3 linked regions of the Homo sapiens genome follow. The protein of the gene in region 3 purifies or fractionates together with the protein of the main gene of each other region. This does not show direct contact. Each region holds a gene or a part of one and is shown on either strand. Other genes may lie near its edges.

The links.
Region 1: the proteins of EPC2 (region 3) and RAB18 purify together in Homo sapiens (co-immunoprecipitation; one large-scale study listed by IntAct). This does not show direct contact.
Region 2: the proteins of EPC2 (region 3) and KSR2 purify together in Homo sapiens (co-immunoprecipitation; one large-scale study listed by IntAct). This does not show direct contact.

Annotation. Positions count from the first base shown.
Region 1 is NC_000010.11:27,510,804-27,514,303, forward strand, and holds part of RAB18 (ras-related protein Rab-18), read left to right. Parts: intron 1-3,500. UniProt on the Homo sapiens protein: The small GTPases Rab are key regulators of intracellular membrane trafficking, from the formation of transport vesicles to their fusion with membranes.
Region 2 is NC_000012.12:117,958,991-117,962,490, forward strand, and holds part of KSR2 (kinase suppressor of Ras 2), read right to left. Parts: intron 1-3,500. UniProt on the Homo sapiens protein: Location-regulated scaffold connecting MEK to RAF. Has very low protein kinase activity and can phosphorylate MAP2K1 at several Ser and Thr residues with very low efficiency (in vitro).
Region 3 is NC_000002.12:148,766,751-148,770,250, reverse strand, and holds part of EPC2 (enhancer of polycomb homolog 2), read right to left. Parts: intron 1,101-3,500; coding exon 1,011-1,100; intron 1-1,010. UniProt on the Homo sapiens protein: May play a role in transcription or DNA repair.

The sequences.
Region 1 (3,500 bases), on a different chromosome or scaffold from region 3:
CTTTATTTGTTTTCATTGATTGTATGTCTATTTTTAAAATTTTATTGTGAAACAATTTCAGACTCAAAGATTTGTAAAAATAGCACAAATAATTCTTATGTATCCTATTAAATTACTCCAGATGTTAATGTTTGTCACATTTGCTTTATCATTCTCTCTCTACACACAGTATTCTTTTTTAAAAAAATGAGAGTAGATTGTAGACATGATGTCTTCAACGTCTGCATACTTTAATGTGTATTTCTTAAATGAACATAGATACATTTTATTGTCTATACACAGATTTTATCAGTTGTCCCATTAATGTCCCATATAGCAAAAGACAAATAATTGTTTCGGGTCCAGGATCATACACTGATTTTAGTTATTTCTCTTTAGCCTCTTTTATTTCATTTAATTAATGAATTAATTTATTTTCGAGACAGAGTCTAGCTCTGTCGCTCAGGCTGAGTGCAGTGGCACCAACTCAGCTCAGTGCAACCTCCACTTTTCAGGTTCAAGTGATCCTCCTGCCTCAGCCACCCAAGTAGCTGGGACTACAGGCACATGCCACTGCGCCTGGCTAATTTTTTTTTGTATTTTTGATAGAGACGGGGTTTACCATGTTGGCCAGGCTGGTCTTGAGCTCCTGACCTCAAGTGATCTACCCACCTCGGCCTCCCAAAGTACTGGGATTGCAGGTGTGAGCCACCGCGTCGAGCCTCTTCAGCCTCTTTTAATCAGCAATTCTTCAGTCTTTATTTGCCTTTTCAGGGCCTTGACATTTTTGAAGAGTAAATAATTATTTTGTAGAATGTCTCTCAATTTGTGTATGTCCAGTATGTCCTTAACGGTTAGATTCAGGTTATGCAGTTTTGGCAGCAATTCCACAGAAGTGTTTTTCAGAACATAGTGTCAGTGAAGTTATTATTTTTCCCTTCATAACTAATATATTTCTTGTAGAGAGATACATTGAGACTGTATAGGTATCCTCCTTCTTACACTTTTTGCCCTCCTGTTGTAGCATCCATTGATAATTCTTGCCTGTGACAAGTGATAAGGACAGTATATGATCTTTTCATTCCAACTGTGATGGTTATCAAATGGGGATTTTTTTAAAATGCCATCACTCTGTCTATGTATCTTGTTTGGAATTCTGTAAGTAAGAGCTCTTTTTTTTTCTTTTTTTGTGAGGCAGTGTCTCACTGTGTTGCCCAGGCTGGCCTGAGACTCCTGGGCTCAAGTGATCCTCCTGCCTCAGCCTCCCAAGTAGCTGGAACTACAGCCATGTACCACCATGCCCAGCTCAGGAGGAGCTCATGTTTGTTTGTTTCTTTTTCTTCATATGAACTCATGGTGCCTCTAAATTTTCAATAAATTAGGCATTACTTAGCTTTTGCATGATATTAAGATTTACAGATTTACTCTTATTTGTGTCATAGGAAAGGGAATCATTTAAAACACGAATTCAAAATCCATTGTAATTTGGCTTTGTTGTATTATAATAATAATTATTATTATTTAATTTTATTTATTTATTTTTAGACACAGTCTTGCTCTGTTGCCCAGGCTGGAGTGAAGTGGCACAACCTTGGCTCACTGCAGCCTCCACCTCCCCATTCAAGTGATTCTGGTGCCTCAGCCTCCTGTGTAGCTGGGACTACAGGCATGCACCACCACACCTGGCTAATTTTTGTATTTTTAGTAGAGATGGGTTTTGCTATGTTGGCCAGTCTGGTCTTGAACTCCTGGCCTCAAGTGATCCACCCACCTTGGGCCTCCCAAAGTGTTGAGATTATAGGTGTGAGCCACTGTGCCCATACTGGTGTATTATTTACTCCTATAAAAAATTACTTAGTAGTAAAACCTTATTTTGGTCAGAACCTGCCTGAGTACGTATTGGTATTGGCTAGCCAGGAGGAGAGCAGTAGCAACTGGCAGGAAAATAAACTTGCCTAAAGTTAAAATTTTACTGAAGGAATGAACATACATATAATATTAACTGTCTTCATTACAAACCCAAATGGAATTTGGGGACTTGTGGCATGACAAATCGTGGGTTGTCTTTATTACTAAAAAGGCTTTGTCTTCTGCAAAGACAAATACTAAGATTATAGTATGCTGGTGAAAATATATGTAATTTGTTCCCCAAATAGGCCCTAGATCTTGAATATGTTGAACAAAATATCTTTTACATTGAAGCATCAGATTACTTTCAGCCTTAGGTAATAACATATATATATATATATATTTTTTTTTTTTTTTTGGAGACAAGAGTCTCGCTGTGTTGCCCAGGCCGGAGTGCAGTGGTGCATGATCTCAGCTCACTGCAATCTCCGCCTCCCAGGTTCAAGTGATTCTTCTGCCTCAGCCTCCCAAGAAGCTGGGATTGCAGGTGTGTGCCACCATGCCTTGCTAATTTTTATGTTTTTAGTAGAGATGGGGTTTTACTATATTGGCCAGGCTGGTCTTGAACTCCTGACCTCAAGTGATCCACCCGCCTCAGCCTCCCAAAGTGCTAGGATTACAGGTGTGAGCCACCACGCCCAGCCCACACATGAGTTTTAAACATAAAAACAATTACTTAATGGCCTTGTGAAAATTAGTGTTTTATGAAAATTGGTATTTTACCCCACAGTAAAATAGTAGTAAGGAAAGTGTATTGTTACCTTTTAGTAACTTAGTGAGACACTTAAGTTTCTGTCTTGCATAAAATACTCTTTTAAGATAATTGTTGGATTTGGGATTTGCAGATGGTACTATAAAGTTAGCATTCTTCTTTCTTGGCAATTAGCTAAAAACAACAAAGAGAGGGAAAAACTGACACACAAACCCAGCATTCCACTAAACTAGAAGACAGTTAAAAACCCCAAGCCACAAAATAGGTGGAAATGTTGCCAGGAGCAGTGGCCATCAGGCTGGCTGCATGTGGGAAGAAGTAGGTAGGATGCCGTGGCTGTGGAGCTCAGAGACAACAAGAAACACCCATGAAACTGCAAGGCCCCCCTGAGGTATAAAACCTAAACCCCTTGTTTACAAAAGTGAAGTGGGTTTCTTCAGCTCAAGGCAGGAGCTTTCCTGCACCTGGTTTAATTCTAAGAAGTCGGGGAAATGAAGCCAAACAAGGAGTCACATAAACAAGCCATTTTTGCAGGAAGTAATATGTGTCTATCTCTATAGCAGTTGGGGAGGAGATGACTGCATTGTGAAAAACCTCCAGACTGCCTGTCTGCATTGGCTGTTGAGAAGTAAAATGCTAAACTGTCTCTTAGGTAAATCTCTGAATCACGAAAAAGTTGTCAGTCCAGAACTGGAGGCACTCTGGCCTTCTGCATAAACCTCCTACAAATATCAGGTTCTGGACAACCAGCACTTCTTCAGAGATGAATAATCAAAAGGAATTCATTAAGCTTGACTGCCACAAATGTTTGGAAATAAAAAAGGAAGAAAGAAACAGAAAAACAAAGGACAGATGAAGAACAGTAACCTAAAATATTGCCATAAAGAAGATGAATATTGTG
Region 2 (3,500 bases), on a different chromosome or scaffold from region 3:
CCGAATGTTCTCAGTATAAAGAAAAGATAAACATCTAAGGTAATGGATAGCCCAGTTACCTGGATTTGATTATTATACATTATATGAATGTATCTAAATATCACACATACCCTGAAAATATGTACATCTATTATGTATTAATTAAACAATAATAATACTTTAATAATTTGAAAAATTGGTTCATGGTCTATTAAGTGAACTTCGTATCTCCAGCCTTTCTCAGAGCTCCAAGCTCACACATCCAGCTGTCTACTTGACAAATGTAGCATGTCAAACAGGACTTGACTGTCAAACCCAATCTATTCCACCTCCAGTCTTACATTTCAAACAAGGGGACCCCCATTCTCCTAGCACTCAAGCCAAACACCTAGGAATAATCTTCGATTCTTGATTCTCCTTCACATCCACATCAGATTCATCAGCACCTTCCACATACTTGATCTTCTGAATCCAGCCACCTGCCCCATCCACCCCACAACAATCATACCAGTCAAAAGCACAGTCATTGAGGGCTTGGACTTCCACAATAACTACCAACTTGTCTCCCTGCTCTCATTCCTACCTCCTACAGTCTGTTTACCCTGCAGCAATCAGAAGATCATTTAAAAATATAACCCCTGGTTCAAAGGGCTTCTATCACAGTTAGAACAAAATCCAAGGCTGGACATGATGGCTCACACCTGTAATCTCAGCACTTTGGGAGGCCAAGGCATGAGCATCACTTGAGCCCAGGAGTTGGAGACCAGCCTGAGCAACATAGGGAGACCCTATCTCTACAAAATTTTTAAAATGTAGCCAGCGATGGTGATGCACATCTGCAGTCCCCGCTACTTGGGAGGCTGAAGTGGGAGGAAGGACTGAGCCTGGGAGGTCGAGGCTTCAGTGAGCCATGACAGTGCCACTGCACTGCAGCCTGGGTGACAGAGTGAGACCCTGTCTCAAAAGAAAAAAAAAAAAAAAACTTCAAGTACCTTAGCGTCTTAGCAAAGCCCCCTATGACCAGCTTCTGTCTCCCACTGCGTCCCTCTTCATCCTTTCCCTGCCCACTCCCTGCTCTCCAACCACAGTGGACTCCTTGGGGTTCCAATAACATGCCAAGCATGTTCCCATCCAAGAAGTTTGCATCTGCTGTTCCCTCTGCCTGGCACACTCTTCCCCCAAATATTTCATGGCTTGGCTTCCTCAAGTTAGTAAAACCTCCATGAAAGAGCCTTTGTTGATCATCCCATATCTTTCCCTTGCTCCCCTATGCTCTTTTTGTTTTGGTTGATTTTCATGGCTGTGGTATATTGTGACATTAGATTGTTCATTAGCCCCTCAATAAACCACACCTCCTGGAATCCATAGTCACACTGACTCTGGGCTTATCTATGTAACATGCTCTGGCAAAGAGGACATTAGCAAAGGTTGCAGAACCAGAGGCTTAGGAAGGGCTTGCACACTGGCGCCTGTCCTCTAGGAACACCGTTGCTGCCACCATGTAAGAAACCCGGGCTATCCTGCCAGAAAAGCCATGGAGCAGAGAAGTGAGGCACTGTAGCCAACCACCAGCCATGTGAGCAGGGCCATCTCGGACCCTCCAGCCACAGTTGAGCCATCAGATAAACACAACCACAAGTGAGTCAGGCAAGATCTGCAGAACTGGCCAGCTGAGTCCATACCTAACTGCAGGCATCTGAGCAAATGATGATTGTTTTAAGCTACTAAGTTTTGAGGTAGGTTGTTCTATAGCAATACATAACTGATATGACAGCTTATCATTAGCTGTGGCAGAGACTACTAGCTATTCAGCATATTTTCTTTTTCCTTTTTTTTTTTTTTTTTCTTGAGACAGGTTCTGGCTCTGTCACCGAGGCTGGAGTGCAGTGGTACAATCTCGGCTCACTGCAACCTCTGCCTTCCAGTCTCCAACCATCCTCCCACCTCAGCCTTCCGAGTAGCTGGGACTATAGGCACGTGCCACCACACCTGACTAATTTTTGTATTTTGGTAGATATGGGGCTTCACCACATTGTCCAGACTGGTCTTGAACTCCTGGGTTCAAGCAATCCTCCCACCTTGGCATCCCAAAGTGCCAGGATTACAGGTGTGACCCACCACATCCAGCCTATTCTCTTCTTCCTGAGCTCAGCTAAACTTCATTCTCCATTTTCTTTGCAGTGTTGTGACTAAATGCTAGCTAAGGGAACGCAAGCATAAGGGAATGCACTGATGAGGGCAACTTTGGGAAATAAGGCTTTGTCTTCTCTGCACTTTCTCCCCCTTCTAGATGCACCAATGATAATGCTGCAGAGGGGAAGGGGTCTGGAGCATGAGAGAATGGCCCGCCACCTGCAAACCAAGAACACCCTCCTTGGACTGTTTAGCGAACAAGAAAAAGACATTTAGGGGTCTATTTCTTACAGTCTGTCCTAATTAATACACTAACTTTGCAGCTTCTCTGACCAAGATGGGAGTCTATTTCCCCATCCTCTATACCCAGGCTGGCCATGGGACTTATATTATCTCACAACTCCAGTGGAAGTAACATCCTGTGATTTCCAAATACCAAGACTCCTTGCCACTTTCCCTCTTGCTCTCTAGGAACACTGGAGACCTGTAAGAAACCCAAGCTATCGCACCAACAGGCTGCAGGGAGAGAAAGTCTCAGCTTTCCTATCCTCCTCCCTTTCCACCAGCTGAATGTGGCCACGAGAGGAGCTCAGGCAAGACCAGCAGAACCCTCCAACCAAGCCCAACCCACAGAATCATGAAAATAACAAATTGTTGTCTTAAGCCCAAAGTTTTCCAAACGAAATTAAGTTTAAAGATAGTTCATGACACAGCAATAGAAAATTGAGATGGAATATATGAAGAGCAAAGAAATGATGGGAGGCCAGGCGTGGTGATTACACCGGTAATCCCAGCACTTTGGGAGGCCAAGGCAAGAGGGTGGCTTGAAGCTAGGAGTTTAAGACCAGCCTGGGCAACAAAGCAAGATACTGTCTCTATAAAAAATTTTTAAATTAGCTGGGTGCAGTGACATGTGGCTGTAGTCTCAGCTACCCAGGAGGCTGAGACAGGAGGATCGCTTGAGCCCAGAAGTTCAAGGCTGCAGTGAGCTATGATGGCACCACTGTACTCCAACCTGGGTGACAGAGCAAGACCCTGTCTCTTTAAAAAAAAAAAAAAAAAAAAAGCTACAATACCCTTGCTATACAAGGAGATTCCATACTTGTTCAACCTCAACTCCTAATATTTTTTTCCCCTTGCAATTTAACTAAAACAGAATCCAGCTCAAAACTACCTCTACTTGGCTAGTACTCTCCCATTCTAGTGTCACTTGCTCACCTTAGGATGGTCTCTGTCTTTCAGAGTTTTTCCCCTCTCATCTATCCTACAGCCTAGGGATTAGCAAGCTACAGCCCATGGGCCCAATATGACCCATCGCCTGGGTTTTGTTTTGTTTTGTTTTTTGGGTTTTTTTTTTTTTGAGATGTAGTCTCCCTCTGTCACCCAGG
Region 3 (3,500 bases):
CTGGGCAACGTAGCAAGACCCTATCTCTACAAAAATTACAAAAATTAGCAGCATGTAGTGGTATGCGCCTGTAATCCCAGGAGGCTGAGGTGGGCGGACTACTGGAGCCCAGGAGTTTGAAGTTACGGTGAACTGTATGATTGCACCATTGCACTCCAGCCTTGGTGACAGAGCAAGACCCTGTCTCTAAAAGAAATAAATAAGTAAATAAATAAATATAAAGAAACAAACAAGCTGTTCCCTGCCTTCCCATTCCCTTCATCATTTTATCATGCTGTCTGTCCCCTTTCGTTAAGAATTTTCCCTTCTCTCATCAACATAACTAGTAAACAAATCTCCACCTCTCCTAAATTTACACACTCTAAAAAAGCTGTCAGTGTATGCTTACCATTATATAGCAAGATAAATGATCTCTACAAGCCATATAAGAAAGTCAAAGCCATCCTCACAATGCTACATTATATCTCATTGAGAACCTTGGAGAGTGATATAATGCGACTTCATAGCATAAAGCAACTTCTAGGTGTGTCAAAAAGTTATGAATACAATTATTAGACAAAACATTGCCATTATGGAAGTATCAAACAAAATTATTATTTTGTTTGATACTTACTGGTATGTATGCACAAGATGGGCTTGCATAACAATAAATTTCAATAAACACCTAGCAGCCATCAAAGGTTCTAGAACCAACTTACAAATTCTGGGTTTACCTAATTCTAGTAATGACACACTGAGTAATTTTCACAGCTGCTGAAGCTATAATTAGAGCCCAAAATGAACCTAAATTTCTAAAATGTGAGGAATTATCAATTTCCAAGAAGAGGATTCCGACGCCCTTTGAAAGGACTCAGTACCTTTTAGCATCTTTTACCAGTATCCACATAAAGGATGTTAAATAAAAAGTACTGATGCATTTCCCATTTTTAGATCAAGACTAAGTCATCTTGACATGGGTTACCTGTTAATTCCAGTTCACAAAAACACCACACACACACAAAAGTTCTTACAGCATAATACTGGCATCCTGCCCGCCTTCTGAAAGCACAGGGACCATCAGGATCATTTTCTTCTTCCGGTTCTGATACTGGGGACAATACCTAGACAAAAGAGGCATTCCATTTAGAAGTTATCAAAAGTCAATAGATCAATGTTTGTAATACTCTAAAATGTAAATCTGATCACAAACAGTAAATCACTTCTATATTACATATCATAAGTACTGAATTCCCCAAAACATTCAATGACTAGCAAAAATTTTCTATAGTTAAAAATCATTGTTTTTAATGGATTAGTTCTTTCAGGTTAAGTCTAGATGGCATTGGTATTGCTTGATTGCTTCTAAACATGAAGTGCTAAGTCTTAGAATTAATACAGTTTTTATACATCCCATTATATTTTATAAATAATGTATGTGGCTATAAATATTTAATGACAGTTAAATATTTACTTCACCTATAGGTTAAGTGTATTTTTATCCAATAACTTTATCTCTCTGTAATAAAGCCAAAAGCTAGGACATAAAAACAGCTTATAAACAGCCAAAAAAAATCACCACAACAAAAAAAACCCCAAAGGCCATAAAGGCCAGGTTTTATTCAAAGGAAAGTCTTGTATCTCCCAACTCATTTTTCAAAAATCACTTTTTAAACTTAGCAGATCAGAAGTAGAAAAGAAGAAGAGAAATGACTTGCTAAAGTAAGCACATTGGTTATAGAGAAGAGATAAGCCCGCAACGCTAGAGCAAAAGAATAAAGACTTTCAGAAAGCTGTCACATATTAGAAAGCACTCTTCCCAGGCCATGTCCTATCAGGCCAAATATCCCTATGTAATTGAGTGGACTTCTAGGGCAGTAGCATTGACCTATTAGAGCACGCTTTATAAATGTCACAAAAACAGATTAAATAATATACAAATACACTGAAGATAGGGAAATAATATGTTTTAGATAAATTTCCACCCATAATTATTAAAATTTTTTTAAAAGTTTTGGTACTTAAGTTTCAGTTGTCTCGCACTCTCACTTTGTAGAACATCTCTTTTTCTGATAAACGCTGGCTCAACCATATTTACTTGCAAATTTCTGAACCTCACAAATCCCTCTCTTCCTATTTCGAGAGGAAAAATGTTTTCTCCATATTATTTCCAAACTGTGGTAATTACCACTGAGCAGGGTCATCCAGGGGAGAAAGGTATTTGTTTGAGGTTCCAATATACCTCCACCAACCCTATGGGGGAGACACAGAAACAGTGAGCTGGGGCTGAATCTTCTTCATGGGGAACCAAGCCTCAAACCTGAAATTTGAAAGGAAATCCCAAACGTGAATTTTACACTTTGGTTCCTTTGCAAATAACGTACCTATTCTAAGATATACACAGGAAGTGTCACAAAGTCTCAGAAATTCTGTGTATAAAATCTATCACCCCTTCCTCCTAACTACGATTCCCCGGGGTAGATTCCAGGGGACAAAAGAAGTCTGAGGCATAGGAAGACAAAGCTAATGTTAGGAAAATCGGAAGCACGATCAAGAGGCAGAGTTTTAGCTCTGTTCAGCTGCAATTCAGTGGCATAAGTCTGGTTAAAATGTTTGTTCTCTTAAGGCTCCCTATTCCTTGTTCTTGGTTTATTAGACAAAGAAAAATATGATTACTTTAATGATCTTGTCAGCAATAAAATCCTGATTTTATAAGATGTACACTCTGAATAGCTGCCTCACTGAATGACGCCCAAATATAGGTAAACATTAATACTTACTCTTTAGTAATATGGAGATACCATAAAATTAATGAGGATTGTCTAAGACCTAATACAAACAATCAGAAGAACCTAAAAGTTTCAAAATGCAATTTTCATGTGGGTATGGGAACTGGAAACTATATAAATCAATGCAAGAATTTGGAGCAGAAATGAAGATCCCTTAATGCATGAGAAACATATGAGTAGTTATGCTGAGTGAGCTCTACTTTCAGGCTGGATGTACTGATTCCACCGATAAAAGTTTCTGTAGGTCATAGCACCCTACAGTATCATTCATTTTTTTTTTTTTTTTTTGAAACAGGGTCTTGCTCTGTCGCCCAGGCTGGAGTACAGTGGTGCAACCTTGGCTCACAGCAACCTTCATCTCCCTGGCTCGAGCAATCCTCCCGCCTCAGCCTCCGGAGTAGCTGGGACTACAGGCATGTGTCACCACGCCTGGCTAATTTTTCTACGTTTGTTTCTGTTTTTTCGGTAAAGATGGGGTTTCACCATGTTGCCCAGGCTGGTCTCCAAGTCCTGGGCTCAAGCAATCCACCTGCTTCGGCTTCCCAAAGTGCTGGGATTACAGGCATGAGCCACAATGTCCAGTCTACAGCATCATTCTTAAAGGGCTGGAAATATATAGCAAAACTTTCTAGGCTCTCATTAGTACCACCAATATAAGCCTATTATACAAATATTTATCTAACTATGTCATTTTCTTACTTAACATTTTAAATAATTTCCCAGTATGTATGATGT